Linked DNA regions of Homo sapiens. The protein of the gene in region 2 interacts with the protein of the main gene of each other region in a biochemical or structural test. Each region holds a gene or a part of one and is shown on either strand. Other genes may lie near its edges. The genes, in order: RAB11FIP5, RAB14, RBSN and RUFY1.

Region 1 (7,025 bases), on a different chromosome or scaffold from region 2:
GGAGTTCGGCGCCAGGTCCCTGGTAGGCCAAGCTCCCGCTGGCTGAGGACAGGGTGCTGTCCGAGCCCAGCGAGGTGTTGGACTGGGTCAGGGACGACTTGCGCAGCTTGTTGCGGAGGAAGAAGCCTTTGGCTTTGCCCATCTTGCCCAGGCTGCCCAGGTCAGGATCCTCTATGGCGCTGCTTGGGAGGATGGCAGAGGCAGATTCCAGATCATACTTCTTCTTGCCCTTCATCTTGTCCCTGATCTTGCTGAAGGGAGACCTTGGCTTGTCCTTCATGGACAGGTCAAACATACTGGCGCTCAGGTTGTTGCGCGTGAACTGGATGGTGACTTCAATCTCGCCGCGTTCCTTCTCCTTCTTGCCTGGCTTGGAGTGCAGCTTGTACCACCTGTGAGAAGAGGGGAGCAGGCAGAACTCAGTCACGGGCCCAGGGAGCCTGGCTCCCGCCCGGTACCAGGCACTGCCCAGACCCCTCCTTGCTCTGAGAGCCACTGATAGCCTCTCCCCAAAGGCTCCTGCTCTGACCCATCGGCCTGGGCTTCCAGGCTTCAGATGCAGCTGAGAAACTATCCAAAACATTTCCATGATGGAGAAAACCACATCCTGAGTGGGGAAGCTCCTCGGGTGCCACCAGGTAGGGCGGCGGTTACCACACCATGCCTCCTCCCACCCCAGGACCTTCTCCTGGTGCTCAGAGACCTCTCCTCTGCCCCATCTCCCCTACATCTGAAACTCTGAGGCCCAGAGGGGTGAGGCTGGGCCTGGGAGAGCCCTCCCATCTCCAGGCCCCAGCACAGACAGACCTACCCACATTTCTCCCTGTTGACATCATCTCCTCTGGCCAGTCCCAGCCAAAGCTCTGCTCCCAGCCACCGTGAGCCCAGGAAAGAACAGCTCACCCAGAGGCCCAGGGCCAGGAACACAGGAATGCTAGTGCATACACTCATGTATGTATACACACACACACACACACACACACACACACACACCTCACTCACACACTGACTCACCCCAAGCCCTGTCAGGAATACCTCTACAAGATGCAGGAACAGACAAGAATGGCAGAAAGAGACCCAGGAAAGACGAAGAGCGCTCATATCTGTTGAGCATCTATGGTGCATTACGACCAGCATGAGGGTTCTTACCTCACTCCCGCACATACCTCCCAAAAAGCATATGAGGTAAGAGGTACTACCCCATTGTACAGATCAGGAGGGTGAGGCTCAGTGGTAAAGGAACCCATCCGTGGAGACTCAGAGCCAGGTGTCCAGCCCTCCAAAGCTTAAGTTCTTCCCGGTGCACACCCACTGTGCCCAGAGAGACACAGAGACAGCCCCCAACACACATGGCCACCACACAGGGTGGCTGGGGCCCGCCCTACTGGGGAGAGATGTTCTTATGCAGGGGTTGGCAGTTTCTTAGAGAACTAAGCAAACTCCGATCACACAAGGAGCAATCACACTTCTTGGTACTTTGCCTACTGAGGTAAAGACTTATGTCCAAAGAAACACCCTGCACACAAATGTTTATAGCAGCTCTGTTCATGATTGCCAAAACTTGGAAGCTGCCAAGGTGTCCTCCAGTAGGTGAAAAGATAAGCAAACTGTGGTACATCCAGACAATGGAATACTACTTAATGATAAAAATAAATAGGCTATCAAGCCATGAACAGACACGGATGGATCTTACATACATAAGTGAAAGAAGACAATCTGAAAAGGCTTCATGCTTGCACGACAAAACTATTTGACATTCTGCAAAAGGCAAAACTATGGAGACAGTGAAAAGATCAGTGGTTGCTGGGGGATTGAAGAGAGGACAGAGCGATGAATAGGCAGAGCACAGGGACTTCTCAGGAGAGAAAAACTATCCTGCATGCTACCGTAATGGTGGACATGCATTGTTATACACCCACAGAATGCACAAAACAGCAAGTGAACCCTAACATAATGTATAGACTCTAGTTAACAATGACGTGTTGATATTGGCTCTCAAATACAACAAACATGCCACACTAATGCAAGATGTTAACAGAAGAAATGGCGGTGGGGGCGTGGGTGGAGTAGATGGGAACTCTCTATACTTTTCACTCGTTTTTCTGTAAACTTAAAACTGCTCTGAAAAATAGACTTTATTAACTAAAAAAAAGAGAGCAGGGAACACAAAAAGGAAGAAACTATGAAGGAAATCATACAAGAATGTTTTTCTGAACTGAAGAACATGAATGCTAGAACAGTCCTACAAGTATGCAGCGCAATGAACTAAGACAGACACATGCCAACAGATATGACTATGAGGCTTAGAACACCAGGCATGAAAGGATTCGAACAGCACTGGAGTCTTCCTTAGCAACACTGGGCACCACATGAAGGAATGTCTTCACATTTCTGAGGGAAAAGCCTTCCACTAGCCTGGAATTCCAGACCCAGCCAATCGAGCATGAAGGTGGAATAAAGCCCGGTGGTAGTGGTCAGGCTGGTCACTAAAGGGCTCAAAGTCCCTTGGTGACTGCACAGCACACACACACATACACACACACACACACGCACACAGAGCTACCCAAGCCGCAGTCAGTGATGCAGGATCCACCTCCCGCCTGAGCTCTGCCCCCAACAATGCCAGCTCCCTGAGCTTCTGGTGGACACAGAGTGGGGTGTGGGGAGCCTTTGTATGAAAAGTCCCTATACATCCAAAGATCCAGAATTAAGTCACAGCAAAAGCTTGGTGGTAGTGGTGGTAGTATTTTGATTATTTTTTAATGTTGAAGTTTTTTTAAAAAGGCTTCCTGGGGCACCTCTGACTCTTCTACATCCCTATAGAAGAGCCCATCATGACGAAATCCTGGTGGGCTATGGCCCGTCCCCTCCGTGGAGACCTACTCCGCAGCCTGAGCGGCCTGAGCCTAGACTTTGGTTTTCCCTCCCAAACCTGAGAGACAATCCCCTGAGAAGGCCGGGTAGGAACAGATGGTGCCACAGGCAGGGCGGACAGAGAAAATGCCCGAGCGGGTGCCTCTCTCATAAGGCACGGGCAGAAGTGAGGGGAGGAGAGGCTAATTGAGACAGACAGACTGGAGGATGTATGTGAGGGTGTCTGTGGGGCAGGAGAGGAAGTTTGACAGAAAGACCAGCCAGCAGCATCAACAGCCTCACACCTCTACGTTCTCAGCCCAGTGACCACCGTGGGCCTGACCCTTTACCTATTTAGAGGCCAAGCCCTAGTCACTTTCCCTAAATCTGGGCTAGGCCCTATCTAGCACAGGAAAGTCCTGGGAGGTAGGGCAAAAGAGAAGGGTATGGACTCCAGCCCCAAACCGCCCAAGCCCTGAGTAACTAGGATCAGCAAGCACAGCCAGCCTTTGCTGGGGCAGACAGGTCAGGGGCCCTCAGCCCCAGCTACTCACACTGCACACACCACAGCGGTAATGCAATTACCTGAGGGGACCGGGGCCCTGTGGTGAGATTGCAGGGAACTAGCACTTCCTACATTGTCTATTTTTGTCCTATTTGAATGTTTTATAAGGAGCATATATTACTGTGGTAATAGGAAAAAGAGACAAGGGAAAGCTCTTGCTCCTATCTCATCTCAGCTTCCTGAGCCACAAAATGGGCCGTGCTCCTCTGCCTCCCAGCCCTCAGAGGAAGGCGGGAGGCCGAGTTTCAGGTCCTTTGCCACAAGGACCTTTTGGGCCTCTCTCCCCTATAAGGTCACTTCCCCTTCTCCTGTTCTGCCCAGCCCTCCCCCACAGGGAATTTGGGTTTCTCCCTGGACTTGTTTTTCAAGGAAGCACGGAAGGAAAAAGAAAAAGCTTCCCTGAATATTTTTTAGGCTCTCCCATCCAGAGCACAGTGAAATGGAGAATGGCCAGGACCTACCTCTGGACCCCAGCTGCCATCACTCGTCCACCTCCCTTCCAGCCCCACCTCCCTCTGCAACCCAGTCAAGGGCAGGACTGAATGGGATACTGCCTGGCACCTTGGCCACCCTGGGCACCCCAGGGACTCAACCAGAGCAGACCTTCTCCCAGAAGTATGGCCTACATGAGCTGAGATGGCCACATCCTCCCCCTCCCTAGAGGTGCTACTTCCCTGTGCCTGGACCAGACAGCCCCACAGACCTGTCGGGCACCATGGAGGTCCACTGGAGAATGGAAAACTATGAACACTGTCGAGGGGGGCTGAGGAATCCGCAATGAAAACAAATGGAGGCTTTCTTTTCACAGAGCCCCACACGCAGCAGAGCAAATGGGCTCTGAGCACCTCATCCCTAGAGACTGAAGCCCCCACGGGGAATATGACAGCAGGGTCCTATGACCTAGTTCAAGTCCCACTCCTCTGGGAAGCTCCCTCAGCTGCCACCATCCTGCTGGCCTGGCCCAGTCCCTCCTCTTTCTGACCAGGCATACACACTCTGAACCAAACTCACTCTACAGCCAGATCTGGCAGCACCGTGCCCCAGGACCCCCTGGTGTTGTCATGTCCTGGGCACCCAAGGTCTCCCTTGCTGGACTGTGTTTCTTGTGGATATTGACTGAGTATCCCCTGGGGCACACAGCTCCAAAGTAAAGAAATCATGCATGCACAGTCTGGAGCTGTTACAACCCTGCAGGGCCCTCTCTCAGCTCTCATCTGGATGCGCCTGACAGCAGGGCATGGTGGTGAGTGCTGGGTCCCCCACTGACCAGGTCACCTCCCTCAGCCTCCGCTTCCTTGGCCCTCAGGTGGGGACAACCATCCTCTTGGCTGTTGGGAGGCTAAGGCACGCCAAGCCTGGTTGGCAAAACCAGCTTATCCTCTCACTCTCTCCCACGACCGTGAGCTCTTAGGACTCCTGCTCTTGAATCCCTGACGCCGATCGCTCTGCCTAGCCTTCAAGGGAACGTGCCAGATCCTTTAATAAATATTCAACCTCGGACGCGCATGGTGGCTCATGCCTGCAATCCCAGCACTTTGGGAGGCCAAGGCGGGCAGATCACTTGAGGCCAGGAGTTTGAGACCTGCCTGGCCAACATGGCGAAACCCCGTGTCTACTAAAAATACAATAATTAGCTGGGTGTGGTGGCACACGTTTGTAATCTGAGCTGCTCGGGAAGCTGAGGCATGAGAATCACTTGAACCTGGGAAGCGGAAGTTGCAGTGAGCCAAGATTATATCACTGCACTCCAGCCTGGGCAACAGAGTGAGACTTTGTCTCAAAAAAAAAAAAAAAAAAAAAAAAATCCAACCTCAACTTCCCAAGTCTGGCTGTGCAAGAGATAGGCCCTGGTCTCCAGTTTTGGAGATTCTGCTACTGTTCCTTCCTCCCTACCTGATCAAGGTTTTTTCTCCCTCTCTGTGCCCTTCACCAGGCCTAGCTGACTGGGGCACTGGGCTTAGGAACTCCAAAGCCCAAGCTGAGGCCTGACCTGTCACTTTCATCCAGGGCAGAGACATGGCCAAAATCAATCAGGGTGTGACCAAGGCCCCAACATTCATCTAGACAATGGCTCACAAGACAGCTCTCATTTTCACAGCTCCACAGCTGTAGCACCCAAACCTGCTATGCATCGGTGCAGGATTTATATACAGATATAAATCCACCCAAGACGCCACCCAGACTTACTGAACTAGAAGGTCCCGGCCTGGTTATCTATATTTCTCAGTGGGTTTGGGGGTGGGGCCCCACAGGTGAGTGAATTCACCCAGACCCCATGTGGGAACCACAAGGATGGTCCCTAACGCTTTACATCACTTTAAGGTCAGCGGCCACCTGGGCTCTCCACCTGGGCTTGTCCTTAAGGACACTCAATCGGTACCCAGGAGAAACCTGTGTCTTTCTCCTGCCCAGTAAGGCTTGCCTTCCCAAGTCCCGAGGACACGCTGCTTCTGAGAGGACTGACCCTAGAAATACTCATCCCTCCCCCAGGAGGGGGTAAGTTACCAAAGGAACACACTGGGGAGGAGCAGGCAGCATTAAGCACTTTCTAGAAATTAAGAGTGTTAAGATGAATTAGGCCTCCTAGATCAGAAACCACTGGAGAAACAACACTCTCACCAAACCAGGAGGAAGGACAGTGATTCTGCCCCCATACAATTCCCCTGACACCCACCTGGTGCTCAGAGTCCGGGCTGCCTGCAGCACATATATCACTAACTGGCACATCCTTCACTGCAGGAACTAAGCTGCTCCACCTGCAAAGCACCCACCTTGACTTCATCTCTCTGTCAGGGGCACCATCTGGGGCACTTGAACTCTCCAAGGCCCAGCCAGCACATGCTCAGGACACAAGGGTTTTGATGAAGATGGTGATTATCTGGGACTTGTCCCAGGTGCCTCTGCAGCCAGGACATGATGGACACAGTAAGAAAAGGCACAGTAAGAGAAAATTCCTTGCACCTGAAGAGGCACACGCAGCTACTGATGCTGCTCTTCAGAAGACACACATCAGTGCTTCTCAAACTGCAAAGTGCAAAAAAAAATCACTGGATCTTGTTAAAATGTGTATTCTGATACCCAAAGTGTAGGTGGACCTGAGAGAGCTCCCAGCTACCCATGCTGCTGCTGGCCCAGAGGCCACACCTGAGCAGAGGGCTGCACATGAGGGGGCTAGAGAATGGCCAGAGCTGACCCTGCTGAGGGCTCACTGTGTGCCTGGCTCTGCAGCTCTTTTATTATCCATGCAACCAGCCCAGGAGATGGGAGGCCCATTTTACAGATGAGGAAACTAAGTTGTGGAGATGGTTTGTAAGTTGCCCAGGGCCACACAGCTAGTAAGTAATGGAGCTGGAACTTGAACATGAAAATGCCAGCCTCCAAGCCCATGTCCTTAACCTTTAAGGTTTAGCAACTTTCAGAAAAGCAGAATGCATATACTCCTGCCCTGAGTACCCTGAGAAGACAGAGGCCAGTAAAGGCCTGGCTACACATCACAGACCCTGAAGACCAGACCCCCTTTCAAAAGGTTGGCACAATCCCAGAGCACAGAGCCCTGAGATGCCACTGAGGGGACCTCAGGGTTTTGTCCTGTCCTTAGCCCCTCAAA
Region 2 (7,025 bases):
CTGACTTTCTGTTACAGGAATTGATTGTCTTATTAGGAGAAATTTGCTGCATGTATCATTTGTTAAATAACAGATTTGAAATACTTAAAATGGAATTCTTTCTACTCTTTCTTGGGTGATAGAAGGGACCAATGTGTTGTAACTGATATGCTAAATATAGTTGAAAGTGTTTCTGTATAGTTGAAATTATTTCTTTGACATTTTTGTGCTGCTTACCACAGAGGTTTGATGTAACATTTTATGAAGTGCCCAGAAGTCTGTGTCCTTGTACTGGAGAATGGTGGGTTTAGGTTTTAAGTGGCCTCATTATAAGGAAAGGACTAATAAATTTGTTAATTGGCTTAGACATATATAACTTGTCATTGTATAATAAGTAGTATATGTTAGCCAGGTGTGGTGGCTCATGCCTGTAATCCCAGTAGTGCTTTGGGAGACTTACGTGGGAGGCTTGCTTGAACCCAGAAGTTCGAGGTTACAGTGAGCTATGCTTGTGCTACTGCACTCCAACATGGGTGACAGAGCAAGACCCTGTCTCTAAAATATATGCATATATATATAAAACATGCTGATTTTCTTTGAGACACTGATATTTTCTGGGATAAGAATCTGTTTGACTAACAACTCCTAGGGTACCAAGACCATTGATTGATCTGTTATAGATAATGATTGTAAGAAGGCTAAATGGTATAATGTTGATATTGTGAAGAATTAATTAAAATCCTTATTTTTACTTAGCAGATTATTTTAGTCGAGGGGTCAGCAAACGGTGGCCAGTGGGGCAAATCCAGTCACTGCCTGTTTTTGTGAATAAAATTTATTGGAATACAACCATGCCTGTTTTACATATTGTCTCTGGCTGCTTTTATGCCTCAGTGGCAGAGTTGAGTAGTTTGTGACAAAGACCTTTTGACCTGCAAAACTTAAAATATTTTCTGCTTGGTCCTTTCTAGAAGTTTGCTGACCCCGATTCTAGTACAGTCACATTTCCCTGACTTCTTACTTCTGGGTGTTTGTTAATTTTTTTTTTAGCGGTAGCTTTAGTCTATTTATAGCCTGTAAGTATTAGTAAGCCATTTGCTTATTTAGTGGATTTTCCCCCTCTAGGCTTAATTTGAAGTTTTCTGAAAATTGGGCTATTACTTTTTTTCCTCCTTAACAGTTATGGCTGATTGTCCTCACACAATTGGTGTTGAATTTGGTACAAGAATAATCGAAGTTAGTGGCCAAAAAATAAAACTGCAGATTTGGGATACGGCAGGACAGGAGCGATTTAGGGCTGTTACACGGAGCTACTACAGAGGAGCTGCGGGAGCTCTTATGGTCTATGATATCACTAGGTAAGAGATAATTTTTCAACCTTCATATGGGGAAAATAAATCTACTTTGGGCATTTAAAAAAAAATTGATAGGCATTTTTTTTAGTTTGTAATTGTATGACTGTGAATGAACTTACTTGTTTTTTATGGTTTCTTAAGTTGCCATGTAAAACTTGATATAACACATTGATATTTTCCAAAAGTTTTTATGACTGAAGAAAAATTTAGGGAGTTAGTTATTGGGTGAAGCTAATAGAAGAATACAGTTCTGAAAAGCAGCTTCAGTTGAATGATTTGAGGAGAAATAATATTTTATATAAAATGTTCTTTTAAGTAGAAAGCAAGCAACTCACTCTTGGGACTTACTCTATTTAGTCTCTAGTGTTAAAGTTTACACCTCTCAAAAGAAGGCCAAGCAAAGAGTTTTGCTAGTCCAGCATGGTAGATTATAAAAAACTTTATGCTTGCATCTGAAGGTGTTTGAGTATTTATTTACTAATTTTTTTTTCTCTTAAAATGGATAGAAATGACTTCAAATACTACATGCAGTAGGTTTAAATTTATTTCAACATGACTGTTTCTGGAATTCCAAAGCACTTGATGTAAAGTAATAAAACTACTGTACATAAAGGTTTGACTTTGGAGAACATGGAAAACTGTGCCACTTGATTAGACCCTGCACTGTTTGTCTACTGTAAGCTAGAAAATGAACTGGATCACCTTTCATGTTGATGTAAAGTGCCAGTCAAAAGCAATGTGACTCTGTTTCTTGGGGGTAAAGATGGGCGAGTGGGACCAAGTGATAATTAGAGTTTAAAGCATATTTCCTTTCGGAAAATGCCTTAAAAGGTTTCCTCTTGATGTGTCATAATGTGCGTTAGCATATTAAGACTCTGGGAAGTTCTGCAGTAAGAAATTCTTTGCTGTATGACTTTATTTAATTTGGTGTTTCCTAAGCTTATTTTATTGAGGAACACACTTTGGGAAATGCTGCCTTAGAATAAAGATATTGACTAATTATAATTATAGTGCCTAAAGTTTTCAGTAAATTCTAGAATTGGGTGGCCTCAAAGGGAAACAAGCCTTAATGCCCTTCATTATAGCCAGGCAATCTGTGATATGATCAAGAGTATTATGGGAAGACTGTTAATAAACCTGGCCGCCTACGCAGAACTGTCTGATTTTATAAGGAATGCATTTCTGAAGACTTCACATAATTAAAAACTCAATAAAATTTAAGTATGGTGATGTGTGCTAAGAATATTGTTTTTGCTTTTAAGCATATCTTTTAAGCATAGTTAATACTTTTGGTAAAATCTGTGTCTATTCAAGTCATCAAAAAAAGTACTTCAGCTGGGAACAACCAGAACATGCATCAACTGATGAATGGATAAACACTGTGATATATCCATACAATGAAATGTTACTCAGCTATAAGGAAGAAGGAAATACTGATACAGGCCACAACATAGATGAAACTTGAAAACATTATGCTAAGTGGAAGAAACCAGACACTAAGAGACACATACTGTATGATTTCATTTATGAAATATCGAGAATTTATATTCTGGTAAATTTATAGAGAAAGAAAGTGGATTGCCAGAGGATGGGAGTGAGTGACTTCTAAGTGAGTTCAGAGTTTCTCTCTGGGGTGATGAAAATGTTCTAGAATTAGATAGTGGTGATCAGTGCACAGGTTTGTAACTATCCTTAAAACAACTAAATTACGTACTTTAAAAGAATAAGCTTTATGATATGTTCATTATATTGTAATAAAAACTGTTACTGGAAAAGAGTACCCGAGGCTTTAGTCAGGCGCTAAAGTGATACTTTATAGTGACTTTGGTGTTGCAGTCATGACAGCAATTTTTTTCTGTTATTCTTTGACATTTTACAAACGTAAAAGTCCCTTTTTATTTTTGTCATTAACTCTCATTGTTACAGGGTGCTTTTCTAAATTGACAGCGTAGCTTGTCGTGACAGTTGTTTTGCCATAACATTTTGACATATCTAGTATTTTAGCACTTTTTTTTTAGTACTAGTACCACCAATTAATATTTGAATAATATTTATTTATAGATTTAAAATTATAATTATAGTGAATATTAAATTAATAACAATTACCAGAATCATTGGCAGAAGTTATAGTACATGTAAGTAATATGGTTTATATGATTTTGGTACTAGGCTTTTCTGTGTACTTCACTCTCTGTGTCAGCTTTGAAATTTTAAAGTTCATCAAAGTCAGTAGAAATGTTCGGACTTGTTTAAGGTTTATGCATGAAGTAGTAAAACATACCTGTTGTATAAAGTCAAGATATGCCAATAATACGAATATCAAACACAGATAAGGCTTGTGCTTTTTAAAAATTGTATTTTATCATTGTTTACTTAGAAAATTCTAAAACATTGGGGGGAAAGGGGCTATTTTGATATATATGACTTTTTTGACATCTAAGTGGTGATTTATGAATAATATGATGTAACACAATAAAAGTCTGACTAAGGAGTTCTTTTCAGTTCTCATTGGGAAAGAACTATATACTTTGAATAACAGATTTTCTATGAGAACTGGCAGCTAGAGATCATGGAATATATTCACAGGACTAAACTAGAAACACTTAAAGGACATGTGGTATTTGTAAAAGAGTTCTAGGCCTGATTTTGACACCAGTTAAGTCTTTATGGGCTTCCGTTTCCTCACATGTTAAACGAGTAAGATAGACTAACATTCTGTGAGTCTATAAATCAGAAACATTTTTAACCTCAAAAATTTTATTATCTTTGACCCCTTTGGTAGATTCTACTGTGTATGATATTACAAATATTTGGGTTTGTTTACTTATCTTAGAGCTTACTTGGCTAGTGCAAATGAGCCTATGAGTTTTTAAACTCTTGCTTGGGCAGTTAGAATTCCAGAATAATTTAGCTGCCTGATAGATAAGAGAACAAAGTTAGGACGAACTTTTTCACTGATATCTGGGGACTTGAATTCTTGTCAAATGTCTTCAAAGTCAATTTTATGCTGTTATAGTTAGCTTGCTCTTTAAATTATTAAGGAAAGGTGAATTGTATGCCAGCTTATAATAGTGTGACTTGGTTTTTAATGAAATTAAAATTTAAAGACAAGCAAAAGTGTCTTCCATTAAATGTGTCATGTTTAGGCATTTTGATACAACTTTGTGCTTTGTGATTGAAAGTCTGTATGATTTCAAAGTAATTTGAGTTTTGACTCCACATTGGCATTTCCATCAATTTACTGTGTTGTTCCTTGCTTGCTTATTGGTCTGTTTACGGTATGCTTTTAGGAGTAAACAATTTACTCCTGACCTGTAATTATCAAAGTTGTTGGATATTGAGTTGTTTATTTAAAAATATTAGGTTTGGCTAGATTTTTGAAAAGTATGCAGTTGTATTTCACAACTACTGTTCTGAGTAACTGGTCAAAGCAAAATTATTATTTTAGGATATGTTGATTAAATATGTATTTTAAATATTTAAGTTTTTTTTCTATAATTATATGGCAGTCACAAATTTAAACTTTTATTTTTGCAGAAGAAGTACATATAACCACTTAAGCAGCTGGTTGACAGATGCAAGGAATCTCACCAATCCAAATACTGTAAGTTAAATGGCATCTTATTACACAGAAAATTTAAGAACTAAGCTAACCCAAAAAGGGAAGCCATTTACTGGTGAGATTTTTGTCTTCAGGTACTAAGAATGAGAGAATTTTTATTGTATTCTTCAATTAGTTGAAGAAAACCTAACAGTTATTTTTCAGTTCTTATTAAACCAGGTTTTGCATTTTATTATACCTAGGTTTTTTGTTCATGTTTGTCATTACTATTATGAATGTAGTGGTGATCTCATGTGAAGACTATGAAATCTGAAATTATGATTTTAAAAGGGATCTGCATTAATTTCATAAAACTTTAGCATTGGAGGATACTGGGCAAAACGTAGAAGAGATCTTTCTGTACTGTTTTTTACAACTGCATGTGAATCTGCGTTACCTCAATAAAAATTTCAACTACAGGAGGAGAATTAAGGATAAAAATTTCAGTCAAAAATAAAAAGGATTCTATATGTGTTAAAACATTAGCTTCTTAACCAGACTGAGATGATATTTATTGAGATTTTAAAGGCTAGCCACCATGCTAGACTCTGCAGTATACAAAGATAAACATGGATCCTTGGTCCCAAAGAGCTTATAGTCTAGCAGGGAGAGAACCAGCAGATATGCAGATAACTGTGCTGCAAAGTAGATTGAAGCACGAATTAGAAATAGAGGGACTGGCACAGTGCTGGAGAGCCTAGGATGATCAGTGCCGTCTGGAGAGAAAGCAGCTTTACAGAGGAGTGGTGTTTGAGCTGGTCCTTGAGGGGTGAGTGAAGTTTCAGTAGATATTGTTGAGGGTATGCCAGGAACAATGTGAGGAAAGACACACTGAGCTGTGACTTGAGTTTCTCAGGAACAAGGCTTGTGTCTCACTTGGCTTTATACCCCCAACATTTGGTAGAGGCCTCCTTCAAGAACTGTGTTATCAGTGGTAAGATGAGCTTTTATCAGGAAATGGTGGTTTAATCATATTGAGAGTCAGTTAACATTGTTTGCCTATCATGCTAGGGACTGTGCCTGAAACTTTCATTTCCATTATCGCATTAAACCCAAGGTTTACATACACACCTATAGATGGGTGTTCATAGCAGCTTTATTTCCAGTAGCCCAGAACTGGAAACCTAGGTGTTTCCCAACCTGGCCATTGACAGGTGAATGGTTAAACAGTTCGGAACATCTCTATAGTGGAGTACTACTAAGCCGTACGTAGGAATGAATTCTTTATATATGCAGCAGTTGAGCTGGTTCTCAAGGGCATCATACCCAGTAAAAAAGCCAATCTCAAAAGTTTACATACTGTATGATTTCATTTAGAAAACATTCTCAAAATGACAAAATTGTAGAGATGGGGAGTAGATTAGTGATTGCCAGGGATTAGCAAAGGGGGTGGAGGGTGGTAGTGGTGTGATGACATAGAGGGCAGCACAGAAGCAGTTTCTTTGTAGTGATAGAACAGTTCTGTATCCTGATAGTGATGATGGAGATCTGCACCTGAGATAAAATTACATAGAACCACCCATGCACGAACGCACATGTGCCTGAGAATGTGTAAAAACTGAAATCTGAATAAGGGCTGCAGATTGTACCAATGTCAGTTTCCTGGTTTTGAGAGTGTATTATAGTTACATAACATCCTACCATTAGGGAAGTTTGGTGAAGGGTACACAGGACCTCACTGTTATTTTTTGTAAGTCTCTGTGACTCTATAGCTATTTCAAGTAAAATATTAAAAACAAAACTCATTGTAGAGGGCCCGTGGAGGAGTATAATAAAATTAACCTTACCGCCCTGTGTCCTTCCTGCCTCATTTATGTGCTTTGAAATAGAACCAGATCAGGAGAAAAAAAATTTCTTGAGTTTTTCTTAAGTGCTCCATTTTCTATAGAATTGCCCTTGATTTCTGTGTAGAAGTTGTGTTCTCTACCATTTTGTTGTGGGCATGTTTTGTATCTCTGTAATTAGCATGCCACTTTATGTCTTCCCTTTCAGGGAGATAAGAAGCCTTATTTGGAGATTCATAGGGAATCAGGAGCAGGGCAGTATTTCTTGTTTTGAGTACCTATCTTGTAATGGCCCTATGCTAGTCA
Region 3 (7,025 bases), on a different chromosome or scaffold from region 2:
CTTTCAAGTGGCCAAGGAAGGCCACTTGAAACGAGTTTGTTGCAACACACCCAGGATGACTCTGACTCACACAGGGCCCTAGCTGGGAAATCATAACATGGGCCTTTAACAGGAACTACAAATAATTCAAACGAACAACTTCCCAAAGCATTCTCCAGAATCTGCAGGAGTGTACATAACAAACAGCCAAATCTGCCTAAGAAATTAGACCCAAGACCAGACAGCGCGAATCACCTCGTAGAGCTTCACGATGTCAGGTGTGTGCTCCTTCTCATCAATCTGCTGCTCTCTCTTGAGCAGCGTGTCCTTGCAGTGTGTACAGCAGCGGATCCGGTCATCGTCCTTCTCATCCAGGACCGAGCTGACACTGCTCATGCTGCTGATGCTGCCTCGGCGGGAGCCATGGACACTGTTGGGTGACTGGCTGGGGCTGGTGTGGGTGCTCAGGGACTCCTTGCTGGCACTGGTGAGCTTGTCTGTAACCACAACACCAACAGGCAGCAATGACCCCCACAGCATCCAATTACCATACCCACGACCTCAAGGTGTCAGTCCACAGGTGTTTGATTTGGAGAGTAATAAGATCAGGCTCCAGCTGTGGGCACGTACTGCCCCTCTGCCTTCCTGGTGTCAGACTCTGGTGAGAAAGGACTCCACTGCTGCCCCTCCAAATCCAAACAGCCTTCCCTTTCCACCTGCCACTCTCCTGCATTTGCCCTGTGCCTCCAACACAACAAACATTCTCCCAGGAGACTTTCCTCCACAGCCTTCTCCCTATTCCCAAACATCTGGCTCCTACCCTCTCTGAATGGCAGGTCCTCCAGGAAAGCCTTTTCCAATTCCCTGAGGCAAAAACTATCCATCCTTCCCATCAGTTCCCACCACATTGCCCATTTTGGAGCACTTTCCACTCTTCTCCCTGTGTACAGTTGCATGTACACCCCAGAGCTGCCCTAGGAACCTATGACTCTTTGTGGGTACGAACTGTGTCTTACTCACACTTGTACACTTAACATATCCAGCAGGGCCACCCCACAGCAGCTGCCCAGTAAATGCTGGCTAAAGAGCTCAAGAGAAGAAGGGTGAATAGTGTCCCAAAAAGGCAGCTTATAAAATCTCATGTGAGACAGGGAGTTGGTCTCAGGGAGAAAGTATCAAGGTACAGTGACCTGGTATATGTGAGAGTTGGAAAGAAGAAGCATCTGTTTTTGTCCCCACATTATCCAGACACCCCATGGCCAACAGTGTGCACAGTCAGCAGAACTCTCTAGTGTTGCAAATTTACCCCAAACTTCCCAGAAGCCAATGAGATCATCTTCAGCAACTTCTACTCAGCTTGGTTGCAAAGTCCTGGAGGATCGGGTTCCACCTAAACTTTGTCCTCCACACACCCCCAACTATTCTATTTGCTCATCTATTAACCTACCCTGGGCTTTCCAGAATTCCATGCCTTTGCTCCTACTCTTCACTCTACCTAAAATGTCCTCTTTCTCCATCTCTTTTGCAATCCTACTCATCTTTTAAGGCTCTTCTTGAACATCACCTCCCAGCCCTAAGCATGCATGCTCTCACTGTCCCTGAGCCCACAGCACTCAGCATCTCTCATATTATGATATTAGTCTTTTCTATATGGCAGTGAGTTGTCTGTGACTTATCCCACAGGAAGGGACTAGCCCACTGCTTATATTCAAGACCCTCTTCTCAAAGTCACACTTGCCACTTCCAAGCAGAGCAGACAAAGAGTTGGTCAGCCTCTCCTGAGTTCCTGACAGTCTCTTTCATTGTACATCTCTCTTTAGAAAGCAATTATTTATTTGTGAGTTTATATCCCCTGATAGATGCTAGACTCCTTGGAAGAATGGACAATGCCTTATAGGCTTATAGGCCAGAAATGGGCAAAAAATGACCTGTGAGCCAAGTCCAGCCTCCAGGCTGTTTCTATATGGCTCTCAAACTAAGTATAATTTTCACATTGCTATTTTATTTTATTTATTTATTTTTTTGAGATGGGAGTCTCGCTCGGTCACCCAGGCTGAAGTGCAGTGGCTCAATCTCAGCTCACTGCAGCCTTCACCTCCCAGGTTCAAGCAATTCTCCTGCCTCAGCCTCCTGAGTAGCTAGGACTACAGGCACATGCCACCACGCCAGGCTAATTTTTGTATTTTTATAGAGACAGGGTTTCAACATGTTGGCCACGCTGGTCTCAAACTCCTGACCTCAAGTGATCCGCCTGCCTTGGCCTCTCAAAGTGCTGTGATTACAGGCATGAGCCACTGTGCCCAGTCTAGTGTTCACATTTTTAAAAGGTTGTTTAAAGAAAGAAGAAATGTCACAGCAACCATATGTGGCCCACAAAGCCTAAATGTATTTACTATCTGATCCTTTACAAAGTTTGCCAATCCCTGTTATAGACCACTGTATCCCTGGCCCCTAGCATAGTACCTAGTCTGTAGTGGGTTTCACAGAAACAGCAACTCAATGAATGAAGATTCCCATGAGCCATTAATTTAACAAAAAGGTTCCACGATCCCAGTGGTAATTAGCAAATAAGCTAGGCCCAAAAGAAGATGAGGGTCCAGGGCCCCACCTCCAAGTCACCTACTTGCCAAGGGAAGGCTGATGAGCTCCATACACTTCTTGCACATAATAGACCCGCAGAGGCGGCAGTGGTGGCGGCGGTTCCGGATGCTGAACTTATTCCCACAGTCTGGACAGAAAGGGACATCCTGGTCGTTGACCCAAGGCACCACAGACTTTTCTATTGCTTTGGGAAGAGCAAACCAACAAGAAAGCAGGCCATTTTAAAGAGAGCTTTGGTCAGGGAAAAAAAGATAATAAGATGAATGTGAGCAAAGTTTTAAAGTTACCTCGAATCTTTGCAGACTCAGTATTTGTTCTGTCAAATGCAGTGAGCTGACCGGAAGAAAATAGTGCCAAATGAAATTAACCAGGTGATGTATACATGCTCCACACTTTCCAATACATCAAGTGGGAAATTAGCACATTTGCATTCCTCAAGTCTCATCTGTCATCCCCAACGCCACAAAATCACAAAAACAATTTCACATGGGACAGGGTATTAGTTTTGCATCTAGAACCCACCTCGCTTCCTATAACCCACTTCTAATCTCTTTATTGTCAGTTACCCATTTTAGCAATAACCAGGGGTAGGCAAGGATGGGTAAGGGCAACGACTGAAAGCAACAGAAAACTCTCCATTCTCCACGGTGCTCCTGGACCCTAAAACTGGCCACATATTTCTGCCTTACAAAGTACACATAAAGAACTGTACTTGTGCTTGCTACTATGCCCAGCACACAATCCAGGTTACACACAACAAGCACAACTAGGATGAAAATACACCCGTGAGACCTGGTGACCACTTCTTTGTTTGCCATCACACACTACACCTCACTGGATGATTGTGCCTGGGACACCCAAAAGAAGAATCTGAAGGAAGAAAGGTTTTCCAGCACCTGAGTGGGATTCATAGGTGGGAAAAGGGAAGCTAAGCATGTGGCAAGTTTGTCAACCTGGGCCATTCTCTTAAGGAATGCTGGCCCAGGCTAGAACTGTCCACCATGTCCTTTGCACCTCTCTAGAGAAGGTGTTTCTCTGCCACCATCAGATGTATATGATATATACAACACAGGCTATAGAAATGTGATTATTTTTCCCCAGAAAATGTGTATTTGTAGAAAAAAATGTTTTAAGACAACAAAATTTACCTTCTCTAACCTGATTATTAGTTTATTGACTTCCACAACATAGTGGTCAATTCTAGCAGCTCGGTGTTTTTTGAAGTCGGAAAGATGGCTTCTCACAGCACCTAGAGGGAAGGAAGGTAGGGAGACAAATGACTTATAGTTTCTCTGAGGGAGCCTAGTCTCTACCTTGCCTCTTATCCCAGTGAATTTCAAAAGCAGGTTGGTCAACATAGCGAGACCCCGTCTCTCTCCAAAAAAAAAAAAAAAAAAAAAAATAGTCAGGCATGGGTATGTACGCCTATAATCCCAGCTCCTTGGGAGGCCAAGGCGGGAAGATGGCTTGAGCTCAGGAGCTGGAGGCTTCAGTGAGCTATGATCCCACCACTGTACTCCAGCCTGGGTGACAGAGTGAGACCAACTTCAGAAAGAAAAAAAAATATATTTCAAAAGCAAGTAAAAACTCTAGGATTTTAGAGCCTTACCAAAAATTCAAAAACCAGGAAAGCAAATGGAAGAAAATCTGCTAAATTGTTAACCGCCTTTGGAGGCCACCAAGTACCATATGAGAGACCTGAGAGTAGAGCAGATAAGAGCATGGACTCTGGAGTCAGCCTGTGCTCAAGTTTCAATTCTGCCACACACTGTGTAACCTTGGACACATTACTTAACATCTCTGTAACTCTAAGAGTACTCAACTATCAAATGGAATAATAATGGTATCTACTTCACAGAGTTGTTAACGATGATTAAATAAGTTAAAATTTGTAAAGTCTTAACTGACTCTCATGCCAATGTTAAATAAACAGGGTGGGAACATTATGGGTGATTTAAACATTTTTGAATTATCTTATTGTTTTATACTTTATAAATTTGATACAATATGGTTTTTCCTCAGGATAAGGACAATTCTCAAAATGGCCAAAAAAATGTAAATGCTGGTAGATTCCCTTGTGGGAGATAGTTAAGCTGATACCTTCCTCAGTCCAGCAGCCAAAACCCAGGACAAATGTCTGCAACACAAATAGCTTACTGTCTGAGTAACCTGAAATATCCCCTGCTCAGTCTCACCTGTTCCAGAAACATATTGTCCTCAACCCTCCCGGCACTCAGTGCATGTCCTCTTCCCAATGATCATCTATTCATTTATAGACTATAATGTAACAGAATTTGTCACATGCCATGCTTTTAAAAAATTTTTTAATTGCCAAATAAAAATTGCATATATTCACCGTGTACAACATGATGTTTTGAAATATTTATACACTGGGAAATGGCTAAACAAGCTAATTACCATATGCATTACTTCATATACTTACCACTTTTTGTGGTGACAATACAAAGTCTACTCTCACTGATTTTCAAGAATACGAGATATTTTTATTAACTATAATCAGGCCAGGTGCGGTGGCTCATGCCTGTAATCCCAGCACTTTGGGAGGCTGAGGAGCATGGATCACTTGAGGCCAGGAGTTCAAGACCAGTCTGACCAACATGGTGAAACCCTGTCTCTACTAAAAATACAAAAATTAGCTGGGCATGGTGGTGCACGCCTGTGGTCCCAGCTACTCAGGTGGCTGAGGCACAAGAATTGAACCCAGAGGCAAAGGTTGCAGTGAGCCAAGATCACAGCAGCACACTTGAGCCTGGGTGACAGAGGAAGGCTGTCTCAGAAAAACAAACAAACAAAAAACTATAAATCACCACCTTATACAACAGATCTCTTGACTTATTCCTCCCGGCTGAAATTTTGTATCCTTCGATCAGCATCTCCACATGCTATACTCTTTATTTATTTTTGAGACAGAGTCTCGCTCTGTCGCCCAGACTGGAATGCAGTGGCGAAATCTCCAGGCTCACTGCAATCTCCACCTCCCAGGTTCAAGCAATTCCCATGCCTCAGCCTCCCAAGTAACTTGGATTACACACATGTGCCACCATGCCAGGCTAATTTTTGTATTTTTAGTAGAGACAGGGTCTCACCACATTGGCCAAACTGGTCTCAAATTCCTGGCCTCATGTGATCTACCTGCCTTGGCCTCCCAAAGTGCTGGGTTTACAGGTGAGCCACCGCACCTGGCCACACATGCTATACTCTTAACCATCCACATGTCTTTTCTTCCCTAATCATACTCTAACATCTAATTAAACTTTAATTTAGAATTCTTAGGGGTGACCATAAATATTAACTGCTAAAATTTGCCATTCATTTGACCTACAATTTGTGATTTCAGTTACTGCAACTGGCAACTTAATCAGAAAATCACCCTAGTAATCTCACATTGGCAATCATGAAACAAGGTATCACAAACAAGCTATCATAAATAAATATTAACTTCTAAAATTTGCCATTCACTTGACCTTCTACAATTTGTGACTGTCTTCAGTTGCTGCAACTGGCAACTTAATCAGAAAATCACCCCAGTAATCTCACATGGGCAATCATGAAACAAAGCTAATAAGAATTCATGTGTCCAAAATTTCTCCTTCATGTTTTGGATTGGCTTTCATATGTATCTCATAATTACATATGTATAGTATTATTATTATTTTTTTTTTTTGAGACAGAGTCTCGCTCTGTCACCCAGGCTGGAGTGCAGTGGTGCAATCTCGGCTCACTGTAACCTCTGCCTCCTGGATTCAAGCAATTCTCCTGCCTCAGCCTCCCGAGTAGCTGGAATTACAGGCATGTGCCACCACACCTGGCTAATTTTTTTGTATTTTTAGTAGAGACGGGGTTTCACCATATTGGCCAGGGTGGTCTCAAACTCCTGACCTTGTGATTCAGCTGCCTCGACCTCCCAAAGTGCTGGGATTACAGGCGTGAGCCACTGCGCCCGGCTGTATAGTATTATTTTTAAAGCAATTTTCTCCTGCAATAACAAAAATGTTTCCATTCTCCAATACAGTAGCAAATAGCCACAAGTGGACACAGAACACTTAAAATGTGGTTAGTGTGTGCTACAGGAAGTGACTTTTAATTTTATTTCATTTAAATTTATTTAAACTTAAATAGCCCATGACTGGTGGCTACTGAATGGACAGCACAGTTGTAGGACTTTCCTTATTCAAAGAGACACCTTCTATAACAGCACTAAAAAGATACAGTAGATGAGCCTGGGTAAATTTCGCTTTCCTTCTTGGAGCTCCAGTTTCCTCATCCATAAATGGGAAAAAGGACCACTACTCCACAAGGCTTTTGTGAAAGGTGAACAAGATCATAAACATGAAAATTGAATAAATCACAAGGGAATGATAAATAAATAAAGGAATAATTACCCATTTCATGGACAGAAAATATTTTATTATATTAATGACTGT
Region 4 (7,025 bases), on a different chromosome or scaffold from region 2:
CTTGTTTTTTTTTTTTTTTGAGCCAGAGTTTCGCTCTCATTGCCCAGGCTAGAGTGCAATGGTGCGATCTCAGCTCACCGCAATCTCTACCTCCCAGGTTCAAGCAATTCTCCTGCCTCAGCCTCCCAAGTAGCTGGGATTACAGGTGCCTGCCACCATGCCCGGCTAATTTTGTATTTTTGTAGAGATGGGGTTTCTCCATATTGATCAGGCTGGTCTCGAACTCCCGACCTCAGGTGATCTGCCCACCTAGGCCTCCCAAAGTGCTGGGATTATAGGCATGAGCCACCACACCTGGCCAGCTACCGTTTCTTTAATGACAATACCAAGTGCTGATGAGGACACGGAGCTAATGGATCTCTCATACTTTATTGGTAGGAATGCAAAATGGTGCAACCACTCAGGAAAACAGTTTCTCAAGAAGCTAAACGTCCTCTTACCATATGATCCAAATAGAAATGAAACTTATGTCTACACCAAAACTAGTACATATGTTTATAGCAGCTCCGTTCATAACTGCCAAAAGCTAGAAGCAATCCCAATGTTCTGCATTGGGTGATGGATAAACAAAGTGGTACGTCTGTGCGGTGAAGTATGACTCAGCCGTAGAAAGGAATGAACCACTGCCCTTTCAGGACGTTCAGAGAGGAAACAAAAGGCATGAACCATTGATACACATGGAAACTTGGATTGATCTCCAAGACATTATTCTGAGAAAAAGTCAGTCTCAAGGTTATATAATGTATAATTACATTGAGATTACATTCTCAAAAAGCCAAAGCCATATTGTTGCAGGACAGATGAGTGGTTGCCAGGGGCTGAGGTGGGGAGTTTTGGGAGTGGTGGGACCGTCCTGTATTCTGATTGTGGTGGAGCTGAATCTCCACGTGTTAAAACTCACAAGAGTTAATTTTACTGTATGGTAATTTTAAAAATGAATTTCAGCCAGCAAAAGTCATCCTTTCCTTACAAAGATTTGCTTCATTTGCACTCTTGCTGGTGTCGCATCCAGGTTGCAGCACTCGGAGCGGGCGAGGCAGGGGGCTGAGGAGCGGAGCCACAAGCTGCAGCAGGAGCTGGGCGGGAGGATCGGCGCCCTGCAGCTGCAGCTCTCCCAGCTGCACGAGCAATGGTAGGGGCCCTGCAGGGAGCCTGGGCTGGGGTGTGGCTCAGGAGGGACTGGGAAGAACTGGGGACAGGTGGTATCCTGCTTCAGCACGAACGGGAGGAGGGGGGGCGGGGGGGCAGGTGGTATCCTGCTTCACCACTCACCCCTGCAGGGTTCGTATGTTATCCCTAGGGAGCTCCCTCCCCACAGGGCTCCTCACGTGGTCCAGCTCGCCTCCAGAAGATCTGGCCACTCTCAAACCATGGTACCAGGTCACAGCCTGTATCACCCTTAACCACCCTTTCTAAAAAGAAACAGCTTTGTCAGTGTTGAACAGAAAGTCACCTTTCACCTAGCCTTTGCTGATGCAAGCTTCATATAATTTTGTGCACAGTTCATCTACAGATTTTTTATTTTTTAAGTCTCACTCTGTCATCCAGGCTGGAGTGCAGTGGTGCAGTCTCAGCTCACTGCAACCCCCACCTCCTGGGCTCAAGCGATTCTTGTGCCTCAGCCTCCTGAGTAGCTGGGACTACAGGTGTACATCAACACACCCGGCTAATTTTTGTGTTTGTGTTTTGTTTTGTTTTTTTTTTGAGACCGAGTCTCACTCTCTTGCCCAGGCTGGAGTGCGGTGGCGCGATCTCGGCTCACTGCAACCTCTGCCTCCCGGGTTCACGCCATTCTCCTGCCTCAGCCTCCCGAGCAGCTGGGACTACAGGCATCAGCCACCACACCTGGCTAATTTTTTGTATTTTTAGTAGAGACGGGGTTTCACTGTGTTAACCCAGGATGGTCTCGATCTCCTCACCTCGTGATCCTCCCATCTCGGCCTCCCAAAGTGCTGGGATTACAGGCGTGAGCCACTGCGCCCAGCCTAATTTTTGTATTTTTATTAGAGACAGGGTTTTGCCATGTTGGCCAGGCTGGTCTCAATCTTCTGGCCTCAAGTGATCCACCCGTCTCGGCCTCCCAGAATGCTAGGATTACAAGTGTGAACCACCGTGCCTGGCCTATAGATTTTTTGAGATAATATATATGCCAAGTTAAAAGCCTGATGTTGAGAGAAGAGAGAAGAGACATCTTTATTCCCACAAAGAGAGAGCAGACTCCAGGCGGTCCAGCAGTGCCCCCAGGGCCACTCAGCTGGTAAAGGGCAGAGTCAGCTTCAGGCTGAGGCTCCCTCCTGGCCTTCTCCCTCCAGGATCCTTCATTGTCAGTCTGGCTGTAGGTTGTAGAAAGCAGAATGAGGCCGGGCGCGGTGGCTCACGCCCATAATCCCAGCACTTTTGGGAGGCCGAGGCAGGGAGATCACGAGGTCAGGAGTTCAAGACCAGCCTGGCCAACATGGTGAAACGTCATCTCTACTAAAAATACAAAAAATTAGCTGGGCGTGGTGGCGTGTGCCTGTAATCCCAGCTACTAGGGAGGCTGAGGCAGGAGACTAGCTTGAACCCAGGAGGCAGAGGTTGCAGTGAGCCAAGATTGTGCCACTGCACTCCAGCCTGGGCGACAGAGCGAGACTCCGTCTCAAAAAAAAACAAAAAGCAGAATGAATTGGCCAGTGAGGTGGCTCATGCCTGTAATCTCTGCACCTTGGGAAGCTGTGGCGGGAGGATCACTTGAGCCCAGGAGGTCGAGGCTGCAGTGAGCTGAGGTTGCGCCACTGCACTCCAGCTGGGGTGACAGAGCTAGACCCTGTCTCAAAAAAAGAAAAGAACGAATTTTGAGCTTCCTTTCCTCAGGTCTCCATGTCGGGAGGGTTCTGCTTATGTGGTCTAAGTGTTCTAGAGCTCTCTTCCTTCTCCCCTGCGTAAGTGTCAAGTGTGTGCCTGCAGGCTTTTCTCTCCCTGGTTCCTGCTCTTTCTTGTGGAAGGGCAGGTGACCCTGGAGGAGAGGGAAGCGTTGCCGAAGGCTTTAGATGCTCAAGAGGCAATTCAGAGACTTCCCTGTTTCCTGGGCGGTGAATTGGGTTGTGAATCTTCCGTGAAAGTCTCCCACTGAGACTAACTCAAGTTCATTTTGGGAAAACAGCTCAAGCCTGGAGAAAGAATTGAAATCAGAAAAAGAGCAAAGACAGGCTCTTCAGCGCGAATTACAGCACGAGAAAGACACTTCCTCTCTACTCAGGATGGAGCTGCAACAAGTGGAAGGACTGAAAAAGGTGAGGTGGGCCATCCCGGGAGAGGAGAGCCTCTGGCAGCCTCCAGAAACCCCTAACATGCTCCGGGCAGGCTCCTCTCCCCGCACCCTTTGTGTGGGGGCCAGGCGGCTCCAGGGTGTGGGGAGGCTGTTAGGGAGCTCCTGTTTTAGGAGCATAAGACAAAGACAAATCATAAACCACTAAGCCTGCTGGCAGCTCAGATAGAGGCAAGTGCCATGAAGAGAATAAAGCAGAACAGTGTCCTCACCCGTGTGCAAGGGGCCTGGGGAGGGAGCGACCGGTGAGCAGAGGCTCCAGTGAGTTATGCCCTGCAAAGCACCTCTTGGGTGGAGACTGCAGGAGCAGACAGCAGTGTGAGGAGCAAAGAGGCGGCCTCAGGCGGCAGGCAGGAGGAAGCCCTTCATGGGCCCTGGGAGCCAGGGGAAGGAACGTGGGTTTTATTTTACCAGAGTGGGCAGCTGGTGGAGGGACAGGATCCGTTCTGTTTGCGGATGGTCATTGGCTCCTGTGTGGAGAGTGGGTGGTAGGCTCGCAGGAGAGGAAGCTGGGAGGAACCAGTAAACATCTCCTACCACATGCCAGCCTCACCTCAGCCACTGTGCCCAGGGTCGGGTCATCCCTGGGAAGCAGACCGACCCCAGCCCTCCACTTCCCCTACATCACCTCAGTTCCATGGAGGACCCTCTCACTTGGAGGCATGGCCTGGATGCTGTGGGCTTCAGAGGGCGAGAGAAGTGGGGTCCAGCAGGCCTTCACTGTCTGGCTGTGGAACTGGACCTCCCAGGAAACTCCGAGGCCGTGTGGAACATTTGCCCTAATGTAAAATCATCGGCTGTTTTCCCAGAGGGGAGGAGGCTCTGCGATCCTGGATGGAGCTGACTGCAGCCTGGGGCGCTCTGGGGGGCTCCTCCCACGTGGGGATGGCGTGCCCTCTTCTCAGGCCCCTGCGCTGCCGAGCGCTGCAGGAAAACTGAGCCCAAAGCAGACCTCCCCTCGGCACCTGCCCCGGAGGGGCCTTCAGGGCCAGGGTGGCTTCTGGACCTGGATTTTGTTGTGTTGAACGTGGTAATGGACACACTGCACGATTCGAGCGAGTCAGGAAAGGCCCTTTTGATTTCCATTGGAAAGTGCCTGGAGTTGTTGGGGAAGGGAGAGCTTCCTCAAGAGCCAGATCAGGCTTGGAGAGTGGAAGGGAGGAAGTGGAGGGCAGAAGAGGACTTTCAGAAAGTCCCGCCTCATCACGGGGCATACCTCCTTTATTCTGCTTCAGAATGCTTCTGTCAAAAGATTCGAATTACACAATTACAGCCCGCCCCAACAATAGGAACAAAACAATGTCTAATAACCCCAGTTAAGCCACAGCTTTGTGCTTTGCAAGCCTGTGCATGGAAGCAGAAGCTACGGCACAGGGTGTGCAGAGAGCCACCCCGCCACTCGGGCCCGAGCTCCACCGCTGCTCCCAGTGGTCCCAGAAACCCCAGTTACTTTCTGGGTCTCCATCCTGGCCTTAACAGACTGGCTCAAGGTGCACTGGCCCCAGGTGTCAGTGCCGTTGCCCCCTGGGGAACTCCCTCCGTGCAGGGCTCCTCACATGGTCTAGCCAGCCTCCAAGTGGTCTAGCCATGAAATGAGGTCCCAGGTCACCCCCTTCATCATCCTTGACCAGTGCTTTCCAAAAAAGCAGCTTTTTCAGAATTGAACAGGAAACCACCTTTCAAACTAGTCTTTGCTGATGCAAGGTTCGTGTGATTTTGTGTACAGTTCTTCTATAGATTTTTTGAGATAGCAATCTGTTTTGTAAAATGTTTATCTTTTAAAAAGAAGCTCAAATAGGCAAAGCCTCATTTGTCCTATGATGGTAACTTTTTTTTTTTTTTTTTTTTTTTTTTTTTTGAGACGGAGTCTTGCTCTGTTGCCCAGGCTGGAGTGCAGTGGTGTGATCTCGGCTCACTGCAACCTCCGCCTCCCCAGTTCAAGCGATTCTCCTGCCTCAGCCTCCCGAGTAGTTGGGATTGCAGGCATGTGCCACCATGCCCTGCTAATTTTTGTATTTTTAACTAAAGGAGGGGTTTTGCCATGTTGGCCAGGCTGGTCTTGAATGCCTGACCTCAGGTGATCCGCCCACCTCAGCCTCCCAGTGCTGGGATTACAGGTGTGAGCCACTGCGCCCAGCTGAGGGTAACTATTTTTAATGTGGCTGATGAATGTAACTATCCTGTCCCATGTCTCTGTCCCCAGCTGCAGAGCCCTCGTCGAGTGCTTGCCTTTTAGCTGCCCAGTGTCAAGAGTAAGCTAGCAAGAAATAATCTTGAATGACATTAATACAGGACTGCATTTTGCTCTTTTTTTTGGTTTTGTTTTGTTTGAGATGGAGTCTTGCTCTGTCGCCCAGGCTGGAGTACAGTAGCACCATCTCGGCTCACTGCAACCTCCGCCTCCCGGGTTCAAGCAGTTCTCTTGCCTCAGCCTCCCAAGTAGCTGGGATTACAGGTGCCTGCCACCACACCCAGCTAATTTCTGTATTTTTAGTGGAGACAGGGTTGCACCATGTTGGCCGGGTTGGCCTCAAACTCCTGACCTCAGGTGATCCACCTGTCTTGGCCTCCCAAAGTGCTGGAAGTATAGGCATAAGCCACTGTGCCTGGCCACCTTTTGCTCTTGAAAAACATTCTGATCTGCTTGTTGCTCTGGTTGCTGAATCTTTTTTTTTTTTTTAAAGGCCAGTGCAGTGGCTCACGCCTGTAATCCCAGCACTTTGGGAGGCCGAGGCGGGCAGATCACGAGGTCAGGAGTTTGAGACCATCCTGGCCAACATGGTGAAACCCCGTCTCTACTGAAAATACAAAAATTAGCAGGGCATGGTGGCGGGCACCTGTAGTCCCAGCTACTTGGGAGGCTGAGGCAGGAGAATCGCTTGAACCCAGGAGGCGGAGGTTGCAGTGAGCCAAGATCGTGCCACTGCACTCCAGCCTGGCAACAGAGCAAGACCCTGTCTCAAAAAAAAAAAAAAAAAAAAAAAAAAGGACCGTGTAATCCTCTGTCCAGCATCTGGTTGGTTTGTTCATTTTAGGAGTTGCGGGAGCTTCAGGACGAGAAGGCAGAGCTGCAGAAGATCTGCGAGGAGCAGGAACAAGCCCTCCAGGAAATGGGCCTGCACCTCAGCCAGTAAGAACCCCACTCCCCTTGTCTGCCACTGCAGGCACACCAGGCTACCCACCACATCCCTCAGGCCCCAAACCTACCTCCTTTTGGCGAACGGAGGGTGGGCCATTTAGGAGCTCAGTCCGCCGTTCACGGATGAGCTCTCAGGAAGCCCGGCCTCAGAGGGGCCCAGCACTGATCTCTGCTACCCACATGGGGTGTCAGCGAGCTCTTAGTTAATTCAGGAAGCACGTTCATTCCTAGTGACCAGGACACTCCTATTCCTTAGCTTCATATCCAGGGCCTGAGGGAACAGATGGGCAATGAGAGGATCGCTTGGTCAGCCTACAGTCAGGCCAGAGGGAGCAGGGCTGGTTTGGGAACGGAAGCCTGGCACAGTAGAGGTGCACTCACCCGCCTTGCACAGCACAGCCCCCTTCCTTTCGGGGAACTGGCCACTGCATCCGCCAGAGTCTGTCTGTCTCTGCTGCAGGTGCTGATGGGGTGCAGACCCTGGTAGTTCTGCTCCCCTCTGACTTGACAGCTCTCCTCCTTGGTGTCCCAGTCTAGATAGGTTGCTGTGGACGCCTGGGCCTTGGGGTGGATCACACT

What was found.
Region 1: the proteins of RAB14 (region 2) and RAB11FIP5 interact in far-western blotting, tested with the Homo sapiens proteins (one study listed by BioGRID).
Region 3: the proteins of RAB14 (region 2) and RBSN form a complex in vitro, tested with the Homo sapiens proteins (one study listed by BioGRID).
Region 4: the proteins of RAB14 (region 2) and RUFY1 form a complex in vitro, tested with the Homo sapiens proteins (2 studies listed by BioGRID).

The regions. Positions count from the first base shown.
Region 1 is NC_000002.12:73,088,924-73,095,948, forward strand, and holds part of RAB11FIP5 (rab11 family-interacting protein 5), read right to left. Parts: intron 393-7,025; coding exon 1-392. UniProt on the Homo sapiens protein: Rab effector involved in protein trafficking from apical recycling endosomes to the apical plasma membrane. Involved in insulin granule exocytosis. May regulate V-ATPase intracellular transport in response to extracellular acidosis.
Region 2 is NC_000009.12:121,184,866-121,191,890, reverse strand, and holds part of RAB14 (ras-related protein Rab-14), read left to right. Parts: intron 1-1,159; coding exon 1,160-1,337; intron 1,338-4,871; coding exon 4,872-4,938; intron 4,939-7,025.
Region 3 is NC_000003.12:15,082,133-15,089,157, forward strand, and holds part of RBSN (rabenosyn-5), read right to left. Parts: intron 3,830-7,025; coding exon 3,729-3,829; intron 2,914-3,728; coding exon 2,868-2,913; intron 2,765-2,867; coding exon 2,603-2,764; intron 477-2,602; coding exon 235-476; intron 1-234. UniProt on the Homo sapiens protein: Rab4/Rab5 effector protein acting in early endocytic membrane fusion and membrane trafficking of recycling endosomes. Required for endosome fusion either homotypically or with clathrin coated vesicles.
Region 4 is NC_000005.10:179,595,550-179,602,574, forward strand, and holds part of RUFY1 (RUN and FYVE domain-containing protein 1), read left to right. Parts: intron 1-354; exon of another isoform or gene 355-1,012; coding exon 1,013-1,132; intron 1,133-1,272; exon of another isoform or gene 1,273-1,412; intron 1,413-2,703; exon of another isoform or gene 2,704-2,806; intron 2,807-3,142; coding exon 3,143-3,272; intron 3,273-3,718; exon of another isoform or gene 3,719-3,840; intron 3,841-3,935; exon of another isoform or gene 3,936-4,086; intron 4,087-4,523; exon of another isoform or gene 4,524-4,549; intron 4,550-6,342; coding exon 6,343-6,437; intron 6,438-6,514; exon of another isoform or gene 6,515-6,717; intron 6,718-6,827; exon of another isoform or gene 6,828-7,025. UniProt on the Homo sapiens protein: Activating adapter involved in cargo sorting from early/recycling endosomes. Regulates retrieval of proteins from endosomes to the trans-Golgi network through interaction with the dynein-dynactin complex.